2 separate regions of the Homo sapiens genome follow, and region 2 is linked to region 1. A link means that fine-mapping ties the variant in region 1 to the expression of a gene that starts in the linked region. Tissue or cell type: whole blood. Region 1 holds a variant in brackets; the other region holds the start of a gene. All regions are shown on one strand. Distances are between the middles of the regions.

Evidence for each region. PIP is the estimated chance that this variant, and not a neighbour inherited with it, causes the effect.
Region 2: it holds the start of TLR4, and the variant in region 1 is fine-mapped to the expression of TLR4 in whole blood (TOPMed, PIP above 0.99).

Annotation. Positions count from the first base shown.
Region 1 is chr9:117,724,595-117,727,515 of GRCh38, forward strand. It overlaps TLR4 (toll like receptor 4), which reads left to right. Exons shown (of 3, transcript NM_138554.5): 3 at 1-141. Among named protein-coding and RNA genes, the nearest start is that of TLR4, 22 kb to the left of the region's middle. The variant G/A (reference allele first, on the strand shown) is at 1,214.
Region 2 is chr9:117,702,937-117,705,857 of GRCh38, forward strand. TLR4 (toll like receptor 4) reads left to right here and starts at 1,467. Exons shown (of 3, transcript NM_138554.5): 1 at 1,467-1,629. The coding sequence starts at 1,537. RefSeq lists enhancers at 889-2,088, 1,036-1,536, 1,437-1,486, 1,497-1,566, 1,537-2,037 and 1 more.

The DNA.
Region 1 (2,921 bases):
CAGACAGATCTGTGTTCTGATCCTGTCTTATGGTATCTGTCTTGTTTGTCTCGGCTTAAAATGGGGATAATATCTACCTCTCAGTTTTGTTGGCAGTTCAGTACACGGAAATAAAGTTCTCACTTTCTTTTTTCTCCTTGAGAGTGTTCTTTATTTTACTCATCTGGCCATCTAATATTTATGAAGAAGCTACTCTGTGGTTGAAAAGGCACATGAAGCTGCAGAAGTAAATGACCAAGAAGTGCCCTCAAAGTTACGGAGTTCAGATTCATTTTGGCAAGAGAGGCATGTCAATACACACACACACACACACACACACACACACACACACACACACACAATGTTATGCCAAAATGCAGGGTGGTGGGGAGTGGAGGGTTGTTCTTCCTAGAAGCAATCAGAGAAGGCTTTACAGAGGAGGGCCCATTTGAGCTGGAAATTGTAAAAGAACAGCTCTGCAGATGGATCTTTAAATTCTTAACCTAAAAGAAGAGCAAAAATGTAAATGATAAATCTGGGAAGTAATAAGTAGAAGACCATGTATAGCAGAGTTGAGGAAAGAAACAATATAGTATAAATACTGAATTACATGAAAGCTAATAGTTAATTGGCATCAGTTGACCCTGACAAAGACATTTATCTGGACTATGTCTCAATTTGCTTATCTGTCAGTTAAGGATGATATATTAAATGAGTGCTTATACAAACAAAGTGCTTAAAACAGTGCAAGGCACTTCACAGTCATCAAAAATGCTAATTTTTTGTGTGCTTTCATTATGAAATGGGGAGCATACAGCCCGACAGAAGCCTAGGTAATGTCTCAGCATTAAGCCCACTGGTTTGTGGTGCCTTGCATTTAGGAGGCCCAAGTCCTTATCCTGGTGTTGATACAAACTTCCTGTGTGACACTGGGAAGCTATAACTCAGTCTTGACATAATACAACTTGTTCTTCGGCTTCAAAAACTTTCCCAGAATTGGAGTGACCCTACCCTCCCTTTCAAGAAACAGACAAACATCCTAGAATGTTACAACATAAGGGTTGAAGAAGCTGTTGTTAAGTGATCATCTTGTTACCACAAAATTGTTAAACTGCATAACAGAGTTATGCAATTTCTTCTTCCCCTATTTTTTATTTTATTTTTCCATAAGGTATTGGTATTTCATTACATGAGTAAGTTCTTTAGTGGTGACTTGTGAAATTTTGGTGCACCC[G/A]TCACCCAAGCAATATACACTGCACCATATTTGTAGTCTGTTATCCCTCTCCCTCTTGCCACTCACAGCATTTGGGGTGTCTTCTGGGTCCTGCAGGAGCAGTCCACTTCCTTGAGAGGTTTTGTGGGTCCTCTTGGGAATGTTGGTTTGTTCTTGCAGTCAATTTGGAGCTAAAATTCACAATGCAAGCCTCTGGATGCTGCTCTGTCTGGAGCTGCAATCTAGTCCTGACTCCTCTCTGCCATGATCCCCTCCATACACCTTCTTCTCTTATTTTTATGCCAATGAGTGAAGGCCTCAACCTGGCCTTCCCTGCCTCTTAGTTAGCCTCCTGTTCTGCCTGATGTCACAAGGATAGTGAGAGGCATGGTCTGGATTTGAACCAGATCTACCTGTTCCCACTGCACCATGCTGACTTTGTATGAAGAAGCCACCAGGCTAGTGGTGGTGGTGGTGGTAGTAGCAGTAGTGAAATTCTATTGATAATACTACCTCTACCAATAATAATAAAAAAGGGGAGAGATGGAGGAAAAGGGGTGGAGAATCAAGTGAGGAATCAACTGGAGCAGTTCTACTTGATTCTGTTTTATGTTTTGGGTTTCTTGTTGACGGTTTAGCTTTTGTGATCTTAATTTTTGTTCTTTTTTGTTTGTTTTTGTCATTTCCAAAACTTCTGCTCAGCTTTCTATCCACTATAGGGATTCTTTCTACTACCACAAAACAATAACAATAAAGATCATAATAATGAAAAAATACAACATTCTTAAGTCCATTTATACCAAGTGAAACAGTCTTTTAGCAGTTTTCACGAACCAGGCACTACGTTAGGTGTTTTACGTGCATGATCCCATTTAATATTCCCAACCACTCTGTGAGGCAGGTGTCTTCATCGCCATTTGGCAGAGGAGGAAACTGAGGCTAAGGGAGTTTGAACCGATCCATCCAAACAACTTAGCTAGTAAATTACAGATAGTAAGATGGAAGATTAGAACCCATATGTGCCTAATTCCAAAAGCTGAGCTCTTCAATCCTACCCTGAAATATCTCCTAAGTATGATTGTTCAGATTATGCTAAAAAATCCAGTGACAGAGCTGATTATTTCCTCAAATGTCTCATTTATTGTTTGGCAGCTCTGATGACAGATATAAAGATGGAGATACATAAACTGACTACATCAGTCCGCCTATGCATGAGAGTTGGCCCATTATTTTCACCTGTGATATGGAATAAGAACCAAGAGTTTTTTTTTTACATGCATTTGGATATGATATAAAGGCTTGCTATTGGAGTTGGATCCTGCCCTTTTCTCACCAGGAGATTCTGGCTGGCTTGGAGCAGAAAGCCTTTGTTCTGGGGTAGCAACACCAATATTCTGCCTAGGAGAAGCCTCCTGCAGAGTCTTTCTCTTTTTTTCAGCTTTGTTTGACCCTCAGTAAGGTGCTACTTGAGCTTTCTGGGAGGTAGAAAATGTTAAATGGATGTACACAGATATCCCCTCCTTTGTAAGTTCCATGGGAAATGTTTTAAAATGGGTTCATTGCTGTCTCCCAGTACACTGGGGTAGTGGAATACAATGTGTTTTTACGAAATGGGTGATGGATGTCATATACTCAGCATGGTGCTTGACACATGCTGTGTGGTCTCAACATGTGGTCAGCTTCAGTAACTAGCTGATAAGCAAGTGTTAGGGCAGTAGAATGAATTTCT
Region 2 (2,921 bases), 22 kb before region 1:
GTGGAGAATCATATGGTGGGTGCTCAAAAAATTAAAAATAGATTTACCACATGATCCAGCAATCTCACTTCTGAGTACGTATCCAAAAGAATTGAAAACAGAGACTTTAAGAGATATTTGTACAACCATGTTTATGGCAGCATTATTCACAATAGCTAACGTGTGGCAACAATGCAAGTGTCCATGAACAGACAAATGGATAAGCAAAATGTGGTCTATACATACAATGGAATATTGTTCAGCTTTAAAAAGGAAGGAGGCTTTGATCTATACTACACAGAAAAGAACCTTGAGGACATTATGCAAAGTGAAATAAGCCAGTGACAAAAAGATACATACTGTATGATTCCACTTCTAAGAGCTGCCTAGAGTAGTCAAGATTATAGAGACAAAAGTAGTGCATAGATTCAAGGGCCTAGGGAAAGGGGAAATGGGGAGTTATTTATTAATGAATAGTGGTGATGATTGTACAAAAATATGAACATAATTAATGCCACTAAATTGTACACATACAAATGGTCAAGATAATAAATTTTATGTTATGTCATGTTATGTTATGTGATTTTACCATAATACAGAAAATGAAAAAAGAAAAGAAAGAAAGTAAAGCTTAGCGGTTTACATGACTTGACCAATGCCTCAAAGCCATGAGTCACCCAGCTGAGATCTGAACTTCAGTATATTCCATTCTGAAATCCCAGACTTTTCCCAATCTTCTTGTACTTTTCAAACTGTGTTTCAGTTGAGGTTTATTTTCAGTTTTGTATGTGAGTTTCTTCACAAGAAGGGGCGGGCCAAATTGTGTCCTGCAAAAACCTACATATCGAAGTCCTAACCCCTCTACCTCAGACTATGACTGTATATGGAGAGAGAGCCTTGAAAGAGGTATGTAAGGTAGAATGAGGTCATTATGGTGGGCCCTAATCCAACATAACTGGTGTCCTTATAAGAAGGGGAGATTAGAATTCAGACACACTTGCTGACACCTTGAGTTCAGACTGGAAGCCTCTAGAATTGTGAGAAAATGAATGTCTGTTGTTTAAGCCACCCAGTCTGTGGTATTTCCTTATGGCAGCCCCAGCAAACTAATACAAATAGTGTTTCCACAGCTGAAACAAAATTGGAAAATCACCGTCATCCTAGAGAGTTACAAGGGCTATTTTAATAGAACCTGATTGTTTTCCTAAATTCACCAAGCCCAGGCAGAGGTCAGATGACTAATTGGGATAAAAGCCAACTAGCTTCCTCTTGCTGTTTCTTTAGCCACTGGTCTGCAGGCGTTTTCTTCTTCTAACTTCCTCTCCTGTGACAAAAGAGATAACTATTAGAGAAACAAAAGTCCAGAATGCTAAGGTTGCCGCTTTCACTTCCTCTCACCCTTTAGCCCAGAACTGCTTTGAATACACCAATTGCTGTGGGGCGGCTCGAGGAAGAGAAGACACCAGTGCCTCAGAAACTGCTCGGTCAGACGGTGATAGCGAGCCACGCATTCACAGGGCCACTGCTGCTCACAGAAGCAGTGAGGATGATGCCAGGATGATGTCTGCCTCGCGCCTGGCTGGGACTCTGATCCCAGCCATGGCCTTCCTCTCCTGCGTGAGACCAGAAAGCTGGGAGCCCTGCGTGGAGGTATGTGGCTGGAGTCAGCTCCTCTGAACTTTCCCTCACTTCTGCCCAGAACTTCTCACTGTGTGCCCTGGTTTGTTTATTTTTGCAAAAAAAAAAAAGAGTTAAATTACCTTAAAGACTCAAGAAGCCACAGAGATCAAATAATTCATTGTTACAGGGCACTAGAGGCAGCCATTGGGGGTTTGTTCCATTTGGAAATTTTGAGTGCTAACAGGGGCATGAGATAACATAGATCTGCTTAAGGTCCCTGCTCTGCTACCTTGTGGCTCTGTGAAGAAATTATCAAACCTGTCTGAGACTAGTTTTCGCATCTGTAAGAGAATTATAATACCTTCTTCACTAGAGAGTAAGCAGACTGCTTCAGTGTCATTTCTTCCCACTGGTGGTCTTTACACTCAGCTTCAAGCAGTCACCCTGCTCCTTTCAATCTCAGGAAAAAGATGGCTTTTGTGTGTGTGTCTCTAGAGAAAGAACTTTCTAAGTGGGTGTCAGACTTCTGTATGCAGTAATATAGTTTAGTCCAGAGGATGAAAAAAATAAGAGAATGAAAAAGGAAAAGAGAGAGAGAGAGAAGAAAAAAGCAAGAGGGAAATATGTATAATGTCAGCTAATGCAACAGTTTCTTTCTTAGTGAAATACCAATCAGCTGGTTGGTAATCTTATTCATGATGGATCTCTTTTGTTTTTCCCCTGCGCAGACTTCACAGTTGCTTTAGAAACCCATAGTAGAGCCGAACAGCTAAGAAAATGATTTACAGTGAGGCAGGGTCAGAAACTCAAGAGAGAAAAAGCCAGCTGCAGTCCTGAAGTTGAGGATATAGGAGAAAATCAAGTAATATTTAGCAAAGACTAATTCATTATCTTGAAGCCATCCCTTCCCTCAATTCCCTGCCCATAGTCCTCCTCCTTGTCCTCTTCTCTGTATCCCTCTGCTGTTAGGTTAATGGAGATAGATTTTCTAATTAGGCTCACTGCGAGATAAAACCACAGCCAAACTTGACTTCTTTTCCCCATGTACCTTTTCCTGTCAGTCCCTGAAGCCTGTCCATCCCTGCCCATCCCCTTAGTTCCACTGTAAGGCAGGCCCTCATTTCCCCTGGCATTGACTCTTACACACTAACTGCTTTCCTGATTCCAGTCTTCTTCCTTTAATTCATTCTGCACGTTCTTGTTTGTTATGTACTTGCATTTGTTGTTATTATTTTTCCTTAGGCTTCAATCTAACAAATTACTCTCCTTAAAAACTTTTAATAACTCTCCATTGCCATTAGAACAGCTTTCTACCACAGGGC